Linked DNA regions of Homo sapiens: region 1 is linked to region 2. Evidence: fine-mapped expression QTL. A gene starts in region 2. The other region holds a variant in brackets. All regions are shown on one strand. Distances are from middle to middle.

The links. PIP is the estimated chance that this variant, and not a neighbour inherited with it, causes the effect.
Region 1: its variant is fine-mapped to the expression of ANXA6 in whole blood (INTERVAL, PIP 0.97).

What each region holds. Positions count from the first base shown.
Region 1 is chr5:151,100,335-151,108,665 of GRCh38, reverse strand. ANXA6 (annexin A6) reads left to right here. Exons shown (of 26, transcript NM_001155.5): 23 at 116-211; 24 at 3,363-3,421; 25 at 4,974-5,096; 26 at 7,159-7,960. The coding sequence ends at 7,218. Among named protein-coding and RNA genes, the nearest start is that of TNIP1, 23 kb to the right of the region's middle. The variant T/C (reference allele first, on the strand shown) is at 5,132.
Region 2 is chr5:151,154,359-151,162,689 of GRCh38, reverse strand. ANXA6 (annexin A6) reads left to right here and starts at 4,911. Exons shown (of 26, transcript NM_001155.5): 1 at 4,911-5,010. RefSeq lists a silencer at 4,039-4,098 and an enhancer at 3,894-4,750.

The DNA of each region.
Region 1 (8,331 bases), 54 kb after region 2:
GCCCTTCCACTTTCTCAGGCACAGCCTGTGGGAGGCACTGGGTGGGGCTGAGGAGGGGTCCTCCGCCTCCTGCACTGAAGCTCACCCCCACCTCTGGGGCTTCTCTTGTGGCCAGTCTTCCAGGAGTTCATCAAGATGACCAACTATGACGTGGAGCACACCATCAAGAAGGAGATGTCTGGGGATGTCAGGGATGCATTTGTGGCCATTGGTAACTGGCAGGGACTAAGGGAAGGGCTGGGGGCACTGGGAACTTGAACAGATTCTCTGGAAGAATAGAACCTTGGCAGCCTCCGAAGCTACTACTGGAAAGTAAACACTGTCACAGTTCGCCTCCAGGGGTGCTGCCAAATGTGTGATTGTGCAGGAATGTCATGAGGTCTGTGCGAGGCTGCAGGAGAGGGTGAGAAAATAACTGTTGCTAGGGAAGAACCAGGAAGACTGGGGCAGGCAGGGGAGGGGGCACGCTGTCCTGCACAACTAGGGTGTATACACACACACACCACACACACACTTGACACACACACCTAACATATACAAGACACATACTATACACACACACATTCTCACATGTGACACACACTCATACATAAAACACGTTACATATGCATGTGACAGGTGCACACCACACATACACACATCACACACAGAACACATTATATATACACATACATGCTACACCCCCACAAGACACTACACCTACACACACACCACTCACACACTATGCACACATGACCCATGCACACCACATATACGCAGCACACATGCACACACATACAAGACACATACACGCTAGATGCAGATGACACACACACAGACCCTCGTCTCCTCTCAGTACCTGGCTTTTTGGTTACGCTTATATAATTTGAGCTCTTGACTTTGAAAAGGTTTTTCCCTTTTGGATCTTAATTCCACCGTGTATAAATATGGATGAGTGGATATGGGTTAGGGCTGAAGTTATTCTCATTAATATTCATCATTAGTGGTATCTTGTTTCATTTACTATAAAACACATTGCATCAATGCACTTTTAAAAAATCTTACCAAGAGGTATCCGTGGAAGATTTTCACATAATTGCCTTCAATTATAAAACACATCTTGATTTCAGAGACACTAAAATGTGGGGGAAAGGTGTGTTAGATTTGGGTGAAGTAGAGGTGGTGGTAGGGGTGTTGTTTAGCACGTGATGGGCCTTTACCACCCAGGAGCAATATCTAGGAGGCGGGATAGCCCGACGAATAAAAGCATGGAATCCAGGTTGAATCCCTGCTCTGCCACTTACTCACTATATGTCCTTGGGCAGGTCACAAAACCTCTGTGTCTCAATTTCCTCCTTTGTAAAGTGGAGATAACAACAGTGCCCAGCCCATAGGGTGGATTTTGTGAGGCTGAAATTAGTTAATTATATGTAAAGCACTTGGAACGGTGCCTCTTGGCATGTAATACTCACTGGACAAGGGTTAGTTTGTATTTGTATTGTTGTTTCCCACCAAGCCCTGCGCAAAGTTAGTTGCACGCAGGTTTAGTTACATTCTCATCAGGTGCTCTTAACCAGCTTATTTTACAAAAGAGGACACTGAGTTCAGAGAGGCTTATAGCAGTAGAACCAGGACTCAAACCACAGGCTGCCTACCTCCAAAGCTCATGTTCTTAACACCAGAATAATTAGCCTTTGGAGACACTTTCAGATTCCTACCCTCCTCGTGTATTTCCCTCTTCCCTTTCTCCTCCCACCTTGAACAGGTATACACGTGCAAACACACACCACAACACACCATTTCACACTCCTCCATCCAATGGCAGGCATCGGGGTCCCATGTGACAGATGGACAGGCTCAGTTTTTAGGAAGACTTGTGGGGTTGGTTACAGAGGAGAGAAGTTTCTGCCCAGCGTGCTTCTTAGCCAGACTGATAAAGCCCTAGGTCTGAAGTCAGGGAAGGCTTCCTGGAGGTGATGTCATGACTGGGGGCATGGACATCAAGTACAGCCTTGAAGGATGGGATTTGATTTAGAGAGATAATGTAGTGAAGGGCAGATAGGAAATGCATCTATCCAGGAAGGACAGAGAGACACAGGAATTTGCAGTTTGTTCTGGGAATGGGGGAGCAAGGGCCATGAGGTTGCAAAGGAGGCCAGGAGCTTTGACATTCAAGCCAAGGAGCTTGGGATTTGTTTGGGAGGTAGTAGGGAGATATGTAAGGAGCTGGAGATGGGAGGTGTGTGATGTGATCTTTTCCACAGGGTTCCTGAGCCTGTTGCAGAGGAGTCTTGCTTGACTCTGCCACTGGGGTACGCAACTCCAGCCTCTTGCCGTCTGTTCTCATTATATCCAGAGTCATTCCAGCTATAGTACTGGTGTCTGGTTCCTCCTTTTTAAGCTGTCTGAGACACCTGTGCGTGGGCTCTGGAGCCTTGCAGTCAAGCAGCTGTGAAGGGCTAGAGAACCCTAGGCTTTGAGAAAGGGCGGGGTTGGTGAAACCAGGCAGGCATTATCTGCAGCCAGGGTAGGGAGCAGGGGCTGCCAATCCTGCAAGATTGTTCAGGCCCTGGGGAAACACTCAGCCCCAGGGATTTGCATGGTCCCTTAAATTTTACCAACGGACAGTCATTCTTTGGAGCAATATTTCTCTAAATCAGTAACTCTCAAGCATTAGGCTGCACCAGAGTAGGGTGGCCAACCATCCTGATTTGCGCAAGGCTTTCAGTGCTGTTAGGTTGGTGCAAAAGTCATTGCAGTTTTGCCATTGAAAGTGATGGCAAAAATTGTAATTACTTTGGCACCAACCTAATAAAACCTGGAGTGTCCCAGGCAAACTAGGACAAGCTGGTCACTCACCTCTAGAGTTTCAGATTCAGCATCTCTGGAATCTGGAATCTGAGGCATGAGAATCTGCCTTTCTTCCAAGTTTTCAAGTGATGCTAATGTTGTTGGTCCGGAAACCACACTTTGAGAACCACTGCTCAAAATCTTTCCAAAATCTGAATCTTTAGGGTGGAGCCTAAACCCTGAGTTTTAAACAAGCTTTTTGGGTGATTCCAATGCATTTAAAAATTTGAGGCCCCGTGCCTTGGGTTCATGAGGAGTTAATTACCTTTGAATCCTCTCCTGACCTTGGTTAGCTGTAAGCACCTTAGAAGGAAGAGAGTTGCAACCAATTGAGAGCCAGGCCTAAGGATGGGCCAGAGGAGGAAGCATGGGGAAGGGGAGCAAAGGTGTCGTCTGAGCATGACCCTGGGGTTGACAATGATCTGCAGACCCATGCAGGGATAGACGAGGTGGGGAGATGGGGGAGGCCGGTCCAGAGTCTGGGTTCACAGCCTCTGACCACGTTCCCCGCATCTCTCTGCTCTTCCTACCAGTTCAAAGTGTCAAGAACAAGCCTCTCTTCTTTGCCGACAAACTTTACAAATCCATGAAGGTAAGAAAACATGCTGGCGTTCCTTTCCCTTCAAGCACTGACTTACATACACACACAAACACACAGATGTGCACCATCCCCCAGATCAGGATTCCTGGCAGCTGTTTCTTCCCATTTGACATTTATTAGCATCTGCCCTTGTCTGGCTCTAGGATGGTATTTCCCAGTTGGGGGTGATTTCCCCCGCCTTCCCCCGCCCCGGAGGATATTTGGCAATATCCAGACACATTTTTGGTCATCACAACTTGGAGATTGTTGCTACCAGCATCTGGTGGGGACAGAACAGGGATGCTGTTAAACAACCTCAGTGCAAAGGATAAGCTTGCGCAACAAAGAATTATCCAGCCCCAAATGCCAAGGTTGAGAAATGTGCTCTGGAGGCACACAGGGCTGGGTAGGACACAGTCTCTGCCCTCTCAGAGCTCACAATCTATCCGGGGACACAGGGTCTCCTAGGACAAATAGTCATCAAAGGTCACAAGCGCTCCCCTCTGAGTCTAGTCCTGCCCTTCTGGGAGAGCCCAAGCCACACTGGCCACCCTCTCAGCCACTGGAGTCTCAACTGCAGATAGCCTGGGCAGGTGGGAGGGTAGGAAGGAACCTGAGACCCTCACCCTACAGTCTCCAAATGTGACAGCCATTCATTGAGCACTCACGATGTGTCAAGCCTGTGCCAAGGGCTTCATCTCTCTGACCACAGCTGACCCTCATGGCAGTCCTGTGAAATTGTGGTAGCATCCTCATTTGATAGAGGAGGAAACTCAGGCCTAGGTAGGGTAAAACGTTGCCCACATTTACATAGCTCCTAAGAGGCAGAGCTGGGACTCGAACCTAGCTCTGACTCCTAGGCTGGTGCTTGTCGCTCCCTGGGGGCAGAGGCAGCTCTGGCTGCCCACACATTCCATGCCCTGTGCCTGCTCCTTGGGCCCGGTGGTAGTTTCCTAGGGCTGGTGTAACACATTCCAGAAATTGGGTGACAAAAGAAATTTATTCTCATAGTTCTGGAGGCCAAAAGCCCAAAATCAAGGTGTCGCCTGGGTTGGGTCCTCCTGGAGGCTCTGGGGGAGAAGCACTCCCCTGCCTCTCCTAGCTTCTGGTGGTTGCCAGAAGTCCTTGGTGTTTCCTGGCTGTGAATGCATCACTCCGGTCTCTGCCTCTGTCCTCACCTAGCCACTTTTCTGTGTGTATGTCTGTGCCCTCCCTCTTCTAAAGATATTGGTTATTGGTTTAGGCTTCAATCTAATTCAGTATGCCTTCATCTTAACTAATTACATGTGCAAATACCTTATTTCCAAATTACATCATGTTCTGAGTTTCCAGGTGGACATGGGGACACTATTCAACCCACACACATCTTTTTTGCGTGTCAGTCTGGCCAGTCCTGGGCACAGAGGGATTTTGGTCAGGACTGTTTGCAGAAGACAGAGGTGGAACATCCGCCCTGTTTTTGGAAGGAACAAGGGAGAAAGGCAGATGGGATACCACTGTTTCTTGCCTGACTGGGCTCTATCTCTCCTTCCGCCTGTGTCTCCCTCCTGCCTGGCTCCACCAGGGTGCTGGCACAGATGAGAAGACTCTGACCAGGATCATGGTATCCCGCAGTGAGATTGACCTGCTCAACATCCGGAGGGAATTCATTGAGAAATATGACAAGTCTCTCCACCAAGCCATTGAGGTAAGGGGAGGGGCTAGAGGTTAGCAGGAAGCGGG[T/C]GAGTGTCAGATCCCTAATATAAGATTAGAAGTCTTTATTCCCATGGACTTTTTTCCAGTGGGTTACCGCTTAGAACAGCCAGGATATTGAAATGAAAGGGGGTCTGTATTGCATTGTTTATACCGAAATCAATTCCAAAAGAATCAAAGGTTTATAATTAAAGATTTCCAAATAAAACAAGAGCCCATTTTTTGCTTTTTTTAAAGCAATGTTATGGAAGTATAACTTACATATCATGGGCAGGCATGGTGGCTCACACCTGTAATCACAGCACGTTGGAAGGCCAAGGCAGGTGGATCACTTGAGGTCAGGAGTTCAAGACCAGCCTGGCCAACATGGTGAAACCCTGTCTCTACTAAAAATACAAAAATTAGCTGGGTGTGTTGGCTCATGCCTGTAATCCCAGCTACTCAGGAGGCTGAGGCAAGAGAATCGCTTGAACCCAGGAGGTAGAGGTTGCAGTGAGCTGAGATCACGCCACTGCACTCCAGCCTGGGCAACAGAGCAAGACTCCATCTCAAAAACAGACAAACAAACAAACGAAAAACTTACATATCATAAAATTCACCTGTTTTAAGGGTACAATTCAACAGTTTTTAGTAAATTTACTGAGTTGTACAACCATTCCCATAATGCAGCTGGTTTCCAAACACTTCTATCATCCCACTAAGCTCTCTCATACCTGTTTATCTAGTTCCATCCCCAGCCATAGGCAACCACCAAGCTACTTTGTGTCTCTGTAGATTTGCCTTTTCTGAATATTTCATATAAATGGAATCACCTAATATGTGACCCTTTGTGTCTGACTTTTTGTTTGTTTGTTTGTTTTTGAGACGGAGTCTTGCTCTGTCGCCCAGGCTGGAGTGCAGCAGTGCCATCTCATCTCACTGCAACGTCCACCTCCTGGGTTTAAGCAATTCTCCTGCCTCAGCCTCCCGAGTAGCTGGGACTGCAGGCATGCATCACTATGCCTGGCTAATTTTTGTATTTTTAGTACAGACAGGGTTTCACTGTGTTGGCCAGGCTGGTTGCTAGCTCCTGACCTCAAGTGATCCACCTGCCTTGGCCTCCCAAAGTGCTGGGATTACAGGTGTGAGCCACCACACCTGGCTGCGTCTGACTTTTTTGACATATGGAGCTTATATTTTTGCTCTTTGAGATCAGCCAAGATCTTAAAGTCTGATGCTTGGTTCTACTTGGCTAACGAGACTATGGGCATCTCAGAGGCAGTCTCTTACAGACTTAGTAGGAATGTAAGTAAATTGTTGGCACATTTTGATACTATATTATGTTTTAAAATCATACATCAAAAAATACAAGGACAAACAAAATCCCGAAAACCATGTCTCATAACAATGATAGGAGTCCCTCAGAAGGGAGATCCATACCATACCATGGGTCAGGAAGTTTGGCCTCCCCAGTCTGAACGTATACCAGACCACTGTGATGTGTGGTGAGCGTGATGGTGTTTGTACCCATTCCCAGCAATGGCTTGGCAGTTAGCACTCAATGTTGTTTGTTCAAATAAGAAATCACCTAACACGATATGCCAAGGGCCATGGGGGAGGGTATCAGCAGAGTGCCAGGGGAACCAAGGGAGGCCAGAGTTCACTGTGCCTCCTGACGCAAGAGAGTGGCCAGAGTGCTTCTCAGAGGAGAGGGCCCTGCTGGCAAATGGGATTGGGGGTGCACAGGGGCATGTTGGACAGGGGAGTGACAGGTGGAGAGAGGACTGAGATGCTCCTGGGGGAAAGGAACAGGTGAAGCTGCAGAGCTCTGCACAGGTCAGATCCCAAAGGGCCTTGAAGCCAGGCCGGGAGCTTGCATATCTTCCTGGGGATAAACAAAAGGGACGTGGTCACATTTATGTGTCTGGGAGATCCCAGTAGCCTACATGTGGCATGGGATCCTATGTTGGTCATGGAGAGAAGCCGAGGGAGATGTCCAGACAGATGGGCAGCCGGGAGGAGGGGGCATTGAGACTGGAAGGACTGTTTTCACTCACTCTGCTCTCTGCCTCTGCCAGGGTGACACCTCCGGAGACTTCCTGAAGGCCTTGCTGGCTCTCTGTGGTGGTGAGGACTAGGGCCACAGCTTTGGCGGGCACTTCTGCCAAGAAATGGTTATCAGCACCAGCCGCCATGGCCAAGCCTGATTGTTCCAGCTCCAGAGACTAAGGAAGGGGCAGGGGTGGGGGGAGGGGTTGGGTTGGGCTCTTATCTTCAGTGGAGCTTAGGAAACGCTCCCACTCCCACGGGCCATCGAGGGCCCAGCACGGCTGAGCGGCTGAAAAACCGTAGCCATAGATCCTGTCCACCTCCACTCCCCTCTGACCCTCAGGCTTTCCCAGCTTCCTCCCCTTGCTACAGCCTCTGCCCTGGTTTGGGCTATGTCAGATCCAAAAACATCCTGAACCTCTGTCTGTAAAATGAGTAGTGTCTGTACTTTGAATGAGGGGGTTGGTGGCAGGGGCCAGTTGAATGTGCTGGGCGGGGTGGTGGGAAGGATAGTAAATGTGCTGGGGCAAACTGACAAATCTTCCCATCCATTTCACCACCCATCTCCATCCAGGCCGCGCTAGAGTACTGGACCAGGAATTTGGATGCCTGGGTTCAAATCTGCATCTGCCATGCACTTGTTTCTGACCTTAGGCCAGCCCCTTTCCCTCCCTGAGTCTCTATTTTCTTATCTACAATGAGACAGTTGGACAAAAAAATCTTGGCTTCCCTTCTAACATTAACTTCCTAAAGTATGCCTCCGATTCATTCCCTTGACACTTTTTATTTCTAAGGAAGAAATAAAAAGAGATACACAAACACATAAACACATTTCCAGTGAGGGCCTCTGTCTTCTACCTAGAGCCTGCAGCCTGGATTTTCCTCATTAGAGCTTGAGGTTGTAAAGTCTGTCCAGGAGCGAGTTACGTCTTTAAATTCTTGCAAGGTGTTTCCCGGGAAGCGCACAGGAGAATCTGAGTTTGCAGCAAGCCTGGGAAGGCTGGCCCAGCCCTGCTCCGGGCCTCAGGTTCCCCCTCATCCCCTCTCGCTGTCTGGACATTTCTGTATGCTCTTCATCCATTTCAACCAAGCCCAAACTTCCTCTTTTGAACTATGCAAGGGTGCCCGATGTGATCTTGATCTGGAGAGGTGCATGGAAAGTTTCCTTCATGCAGGTCACTGATAAGCAAGTAGGCGCAACT
Region 2 (8,331 bases):
ATTCCCTTGCTGGCCTTCGCAGCAAAACTCCCAGAATAAGTAGTTTAGGCTTTTTATCTTACACCGTTCCCATCAGGCCTTTACCCCCAACATTCTGCAATTCACAGCAAGAGATAAGTTGGCTTTCACATTGCTAAACCCAATGATAGATTTGTAGACCTTGTCCTACTTTACCTAAAAGCAGCATTTGACACACCTGATCACTCCCTTATTTTTCACTTTGCTGCCACATTCTCCTGGGGTAGTTTCCTCCCATCTTACTACAATCTCCTTCCCAGTCACCTTTGCTGAATTCTTTTCTTCTCCCCAACTCTTTTATTTTATTTTTTGAGAGTCTCACTCTGTCTCTCAGGCTGGAGTGCAATGGTGCCATCTCACTGCAATCTCCACCTCCTGGGAGTGATTCTCCTGCCTCAGCCTCCCAAGTAGCTGGGATTACAGCATGCACCACCACGTCCAGCTAACTTTTTGTATTTTTAGTAGAGATGGGGTTTAACTATGTTGGTCAGGCTGGTCTTGAACTCCTGGCCTCAAGTGATCCACCCACCTCAGCCTCCCAAAGTGCTGGAATTACAGGCATGAGCCACCGGGTCCGGCCTCTCCCCAAATGGTAACATAAGAGTGTCTCAGACTCGGTCCTTAGCATCGTGGGTGATCAGCAACTATTTGGGGCTGGCGGTACAGGCAGTAAGAAGAATTTACCAAGGCAGTTGTAGGTAAAGAAAGGCAGATTTATTAGAGAAAGTATGAAAATACATTGCTGCCAGACGTGGTGGCTCATGCCTATAATCCCAGCACTTTGGGAAGCCGAGGTGGATCACGAGGTCAGGAGTTTGAGACCAGCCTGATCAACATGGTGAAAACCCATCTCTACTAAAAATACAAATATTAGCCAGGTGTGGTGGCACGCACCTGTAATCCCAGCTACTCAGGAGCCTAAGGCAGAAGAATCGCTTGAACCCGGGAGGCGGAGGTTGTGGTGAGTCGAGATAGTGCCACTGCACTACAGTCTGGGCGACAGAGTGAGACTTCATCTCAAAAGAAAAACAGAAAAGAAAAGAAAATACGTTGCAAGGGTGCAACGGGCAAGTTAGCAAAACAGAAGCTAACTGCAAGAAAACAAAATCTGGCTAAGGATTTTATAGGATGGTGCTTGTGCTGTGTGCTGAAGAGGGCTTTGTGCAGTACTGATAACATCAAGGGTGCAGGGAGCTTGCGTGCATTTTTCTATCAGGTGAGGGTCTGGCAATAGCTGGGCGCAGATAAGATTGTGAGTTATTCGCACAGGAGGGCTATGCATCCTGGGCCATGAAGAAAGGCAGACTTATAGCTTATCTGCTTTCTCTTTTTGCTTTCCCTTGGTCCTGCCAGCCTGACTCCTTTTGCCGAACTAGGACTCCATATTTAGTTCTCTTCTCCCTTAAGGATCTCATCTCTTGAACTCCAGACTTGACTAGCCAACTGCGTACTTGACATCTCCTGTTGGGTGTCTAATAGAAATGTTCAACAAACTGGTCAAAAACTGAACTCCTGATCTTTTCCCCACTTCTAATTCCCAAAATTGCTTTCCCTGCAGTCTTGCTCATTTCAGTTGATGGTAACTCCATCCTTCCAGTGGCTCAGGCCAGGATCCCTGAAGCCATTCTTGACTCTTTCTCATCTCCCACCTGATCCTTCGGAAATCATGTTCAACCTTCAAATACATCCCATCTCCAACCACTTCCCCCACCTGCATTTATACCAGCCTGTCTCTTGCCTGGATTACTGCAAAATCTCCTAGCAGATCCCCTTCTTCTACTCTTCCCCCAACAGTATTCAGTATTTCCAACACAGGAGACTTCAGTGACCCTTTAAAAAATATGTCTTGGCCAGGTGCGGTGGCTCACACCTGTAATCCCAGCACTTTGGGAGGCCAAGGCAGGTGGATCACCTGAGGTCAGGAGTTCAAGACCAACCTGGCCAACATGATGAATCCCCGTCTCTACTAAAAAAATACAAAAATTAACTGGGCATGGTAGCAGGTGCCTGTAATCCCAGCTATTTGGGAGGCTGAGGCGGAAAGAATTGCTTGAACCCACGAGGTGAAGGTTGCAGTGAGCCGACATGGCACCACTGCACTCCAGCCTGGGCAACAGAACGAGCCTCTGTCTCAAACAAACACAAAAGTCTTATCCAGAATATAAAAAGAACTCATATAACTTAACAACAAAAAAGACAAAAAATCCAATTTAAAAATGAGCAAAAAGCATGATTAGATATTTTTCCAAAGAAGATGTACAAATAGTGGCCAATGAGCACACAAAAAAGATACTCCACATCATTAGTCAGAAGGGAAATGCAAATCAAAAACACAATTATAGATGCCATTTCATAATGACTAGAGCACAAGTTTTTTGTACTTTTGTTTTTTTGAGACAAGTTCTCACTCTGTCGCCCAGGCTGGAGTGCAGTGGTGCAATCACGGCTCACTGCAGCCTCTACCTTCCAGCTTCAAGGGATCATCCCACCTCAGCCTCTCCAGTAGCTGGGATTGCAGGCATGTGCCACTACCCCTGGTTAATTTTTTGTAGAGATGCGGTTTCGTCATGTTGTCCAGGCTGGTCTCAAACTCGTGGGCTCAAGCAATTCACCCACCTCGGCCCTCCCAAAGTACTGGCATTACAGGCATGAGCCACTGTGCCTGGCCGGGTACAAATTTTTAAAAAATAAAATACAAGTGTTGGCAAGGACATGGAGAAATTAAAAGCCTCATACATGACATGGCTGATGGGAATATAAAATGTTGCAGCCACTCTGAAAAAATGTTTGGCAGTTCCTCAAAAACTTAAATGTAGAATTACTATATGACCCAGCAGTTTCATTCCTAGGTAAATACACAACGACAATTGAAAACAGGTACTCAAATAAGTATTTGTATGCAAATGTTCATTAGCAGCACTATTCACAATCAGCAAAAGGGGGAAACAATGCACTATCCATCAACAGATGGATGGATAAACAAATTATAGTGTACTTATACAACGGAAAATTATTCAGCCATTAAAAGGAATGGAGTGCTGGACCGGACACGGTGGCGCATGCCTGTAATCCCAGCACTTTGGGAGGCAAAGGCGGGTGGATCACCTGAGGTCAGGAGTTCGAGACCAGCCTAACTAACATGGTAAAACCCCATCTCTACTAAATACAAAAATAAATTAGCCACACGTGGTGGTGCATGCCTGTAATCCCAGCTGCTCGGAAGGCTGAGGCAGGAGAATTCCTTGAATCTGAGAGGTGGAGGTTGCAGTGAGCCGAGATCACGCCATTGCACTCCAGCCTTGGCAACAAGAGCAAAACTCCAACTGAAACTAAAAAAAAAAAGGAATGGAGTGCTGATACATGCTACAGTGTGGATGAACTTCAAAAACATGCCACATGAGGCCAGGCACGGTGGCTCACGCCTGTAATCCCAGCACTTTGGGAGGCCGAGGCAGGTGGATCACCTGAGGTCGGGAGTTCAAGACCAACCTGACCAACATGGAAAAACCCCGTCTCTACTAAAAATACAGAATTAGCTGGGTGTGGTGGCGCATGCCTGTAATCCCAACTACTCGGGAGGCTGAGGCAGGAGAATTGCTTGAACCCAGGAGGCAGAAGTTGTGGTGAGCAGAGATCACGCCACTGCACTCCAGCCTGGGCGACAAGAGTGAAAAAACAACAACAAAAACAAACAAACAAAATGCCACATGAAAGAAGTCAGACAAGAAGGGTTGCATCTCATGTGATTCCATGTATATGAAATATCCAGAATAGGCACATCCGCAGAAGCAGAAAGCAAATTGGTGGTTGCCAGAGACGAGGGGTAAGGGAAAGTTAGGAGTGACTGCTCAGTGGGTATACTGTTTTATTTTTCCGTGAAGAGAATATTTTGGAACTAGATAGAGGTGGTGGATACACAACATTGTGTCTGTACAAAATGCCACTGAATTGTTGACTTTAAAATGGTTAATTTTATGTTGTGTGGATTTCATCTACCCAAAAATAATACCCTTTCTTTGCTCAATATCCTGCAATGGATCCCCAGTTGACTCAGAGTAAAAGACAGCGTGCCTTCAAGGGCCCCGGAGGTCCCACCTGATTGGGTCCCTCTTATCTCTCCTCTCCCTCCCACTCACTCCATTCCAGCCACACTGGCCCCCCTGCTGATCCTCGGAGGCGCCAGGTGGCCTCCTGCTAGGAGCATTTGCTCCAGCAGTTTCCTCTGCCTGGAACACTTTCCGCAGGTATCTGTCCAATTCTTCTAACTTCCTCATCTTCTCCTTACCAATCCCCTGGGGACAATAATTCTCAGTTTCCTCTGTATTCTCAGTTTATCAATTTTTCCTGTTCTAGCGCTGGATTACAACTGCTGGTCTCCCTGCCTGCCTTCCCTGCTTCCCAGAGCACGAAGAAGCTTGCCTCCGCAACCCACTATTTGTGTGACCTTGGTCCAGGAACTGGACTGGGCTCTCCTCCTGAAAGTGGGTAAATAATGTCACCGACCTAATGAGGCTGTTGAGGCATGGAATCTGATCAGGCAGATAAAGTGCCCCTGGCAAACCTCAATTTTCTGTTTCTCAACAAAGCTTTGGCGACTTATAAGAATTTGCGGGAAAGTGTCCAGAACCCGGAGTCAGGAGCCCTGACTTCTAGCCCTGAAGGGCCGCGTGACCTTGGCCAAAGCCCCTAATCCTTCTCAGTCTCAGATCCGGGGGCTGGAAACTGAGGAGGTTCTCCCGGCAAGCCCCTCGGGCTAGTGACATTCTAAGATTCCAAGAGCTAAGGAGCTAGAGGGGTGGGGTGGAGGAGGGAGGCGGGCGCGCCGGATTGGCCTCTGCGCGCCACGTGTCCGGCTCGGAGCCCACGGCTGTCCTCCCGGTCCGCCCCGCGCTGCGGTTGCTGCTGGGCTAACGGGCTCCGATCCAGCGAGCGCTGCGTCCTCGAGTCCCTGCGCCCGTGCGTCCGTCTGCGACCCGAGGCCTCCGCTGCGCGGTGAGTGGGCTGAGGCTGGAGAGGGGAGTCGCTCTGGGAACCCCTTCCCGGGGGCTGCAGGGACACAAGAAATAAGCGCCCAGTCATCGGCTGATGGGTACCCCCCGCCAGGAGCAGGGACGGGAGGGCGCGGTAACCCGAGAGTGTCGCAGACTGGGTGTGTCTGGGGAGCGCAGCGGAGCAAATCTGGGGTCGGGGCGGAGAGGCGCGGGCGGAGGGCGCCCTGGCTAGGGGGAGGGGAGGGAGTCCCGTTGCTGCAGAGGGTCTGGTTGAGGGTCCTGGGCGCCGGAGCTGAGCCAGGGGCTGGTCCTGCCGGCCTTAATTTGGGGGGGCTCAAGAGACTTTGAAGGTCCGGGGTTGGGGTCAGCTGGACGCCAGTCAAAGGACCCGCAGAGAAGGGTGTGGCTGAGGCCCAAGACTGAGAGCAAGAGCGTTGGACCCTCCAGCTGCTTATAAAATGGCTTGTGTGTGGTGTCGGGGGAGGGCTGCCTGCGTGCAGAGAGCTGAACGTCCGGTCGTACATACCTCAGGGCCTCATTGGACCCCATCCCCTTTGGGCCACTGCTTGTCTATGAATGCAGTCTCCCAACGGGGCTCCGAGGCCTCCTATGGTGAGGCAGGGGCACTACCCTTCTTTCTGCATCCCCTAAGCGGTCTAGGCCTTCCCAAAGTTTGGGGGCTTCAAATAATTCCCCATATACCAGCATGGGAGCAAAATACCCTGAATCGGAATCCCAGCCCCTGTTGCAGTGTGACTTTGGGCGGTGGCTTTCCCTCTCTGAGCCTGGATTTCCTTCTCCAAGTCCATAGTTGAGAAACCCAGTCTCTTTCAAAGGAAACAATGGCTTTGAAAACTGATTTATTTGTCAGCTGTATGGAATGATTGCAGGTTTGGGAGTCTTGATTATAGATTTGGGAAGCCTGGCACAACCCTTGTAGGCCCTACAAGGGGAAAGGGCAGGAGGTCCTTTGGGACAACTAATCTGGCCACGGCTTCCTGCCTCCTCCTTCCTTTCCCTAGATTCTAGTGGGTCTTCTCTGACAATTCCAAATTTGGACATATGGCTCCCGGGTTTGTGAAAGGACTCTGGTTTCCCCCCAAGAGTCCGCCCTTTTCCCTCCATTATTCCTTCCCCCTTGCCCAAAACATGCTTGGGATTGCTTCCACTGACCCAGATGGCATATCCTGACCTGCGTAGCCCTTCATGGTGAAGTGAATGACCGCCCCAGTTTCAGCCCCTGTGGACCCTGACCTCCTAGCAGGCAGGCCCTGAGCCACGCCGAGGGCACTGGCCTGGGGTCAGAGGAAAGCCCGGTTACAGTCCGGATGTGCTGGGACTTCTTGAGCAAGCCCTTTCTCTAAGGCTTTGTGCCCCATCTGGAGCAAAGTCTGCTGAACTGGCTGCCACTGCCAGTGCAGACATTCTAGGATTCAACTGTTCTAAGATTTAGGATTCTGGGAGTTGGATGGGACTGGGGAGGGCAGGAGGCAGAGGCTTTCATCCCCCTCTGCAGCTGTGACAATCACTCATCCATCTTTCTTTGCCTTATCTACCCTTTGTTCCTAAGGCAGCATCTGCTGAGATACAGAAAATACTTGCAGTTTCTGGATAAGGGCCACAGCTGTTGCTGGGGCAAAATGTAGATGTGAGTGTGCAGAGGAGGGGCCAGGGAAGCCCAAGGCCTGGCCTCTTGAGACTGACTCCTGGGATGAAGTGGGGGAGACTGCAGTGCTGGATAGCTGCCAGTGACTGGCACATCCGCACTGCAGCATCCAGAGGGAGCCCTGGGCCACCAGGATCCAGCCTCGGACCCAGCCCCTGCCCTGCCACTAATCAGCTAGGCGCCCTGGGCACACCTACTACCCCTCTGGGGCTTAGCCCCTTCCTCTCTACAGGGATAGGACATATACCCAGGACACCCCACTGGTATTAATAAAATGGGTTGGGTCTGAATGGCTTTTGCTCTACCATTCTAGGATTTTCTGGGGAGGCCCAGTGGAATCACCAGCCTCACCCCACCCAGCCTCTCCGATATACTTCCTGGGTGGCGACAAAGCACAGGATGTGGTCTCTACCGTGATTCCTGAGCATGCATGCACCCCTTCTCCTGCCAATAGAGGGGAGGAAGTCGGAGGGGTGTCTTTATGCCTATAAACTTGCCTTGGAATCCAGCCTCACTCCCTTTCCTCCTGGAGTTGAGAAGCCCCCACAGAGACTGGCTATGGGGGAGTGACTGTCTATAGGTTCCTTGGATGTCCTGCCTATCTGCAAAATGAGAATGAGATCGATACCTTCATGAGGCTGTAAGATGGCAGATATAAAAGTGCTGTGTTATCTCAAAAGGGTGTGGTGCTTGAGAAGGCAGGCGACCTGAGCCTCAAGTTCCTCTTCTGAAAAATCCATGTCCTGGTGGTCCTTAAATAATAGCAATAAAATGGTAACCACTATTACCTCTCGAACCCTTAAATTTGCCAGGCCCCGGCTGAAGCCTTGCTATGTTAGACGCTGTTATTAATGCCTATTTTGCAGACATGGAAACTCCAGCCCTTAACAGTTTAAGGAAGAAATAATAATGACAAATGCTTATAAAATATAGTGCTTCCTGTGTGCCAGGTCCTCTTCTAAGCTCTAGACTTGTCTTAATTTTTTTTATCCTCATCATAACTCCTATGAGGGAGGTGCTATTTTTATCCCTTTTTTTTTTTTTTAATATGAAACAGGCACAGAGAGGCTCAATACTTGCACAACACCACACAGCTACTAAATATCACCCTCAGGCTTCAATCTCAGGCAGTCTGGCTCCAGCATCTATACTGTGAGACACTACTTTGCTGCCTCTCACAAAAGTGACCCAAGCTGGGGTTCAAACCTAGGCTAGACTAGTTCCAATCCTGAGGCAGAGAGATGATCTCCTGAGGCCTTGTCCAGTCCTAGGATCAATGGTTCTGGGTCAGGAGAGGAAAAGACACTGCTCCCTAAGAAACCCCAGTCGTCAAGCTGGGGGGTGTGCCCACGCACAGAGCCAGGGAAGGCATTTACCCCAGCTTCATCAGAATCAAGGCTCCTGGAGGGTTATGGAGCGGGTCCTGGGTGTCTTCCTGCAGACCGGGGGAGAAGCCAGCAAGAAAGGGCAAAGAGGGAAGGATCTAGATTTTATAGGCCAGGGGCCTTCTAAGTGGGATGGATATACCCCAGGACGCACTGAAGATGATCTTTTGGGGGTACAGGAAGAAACTATTGGACTCCTTATTAAATGTACTTTTAATGTCATATTTTAAAGGTATATTTCTGTTTATCATGGTAAATACTCAATTTTTCT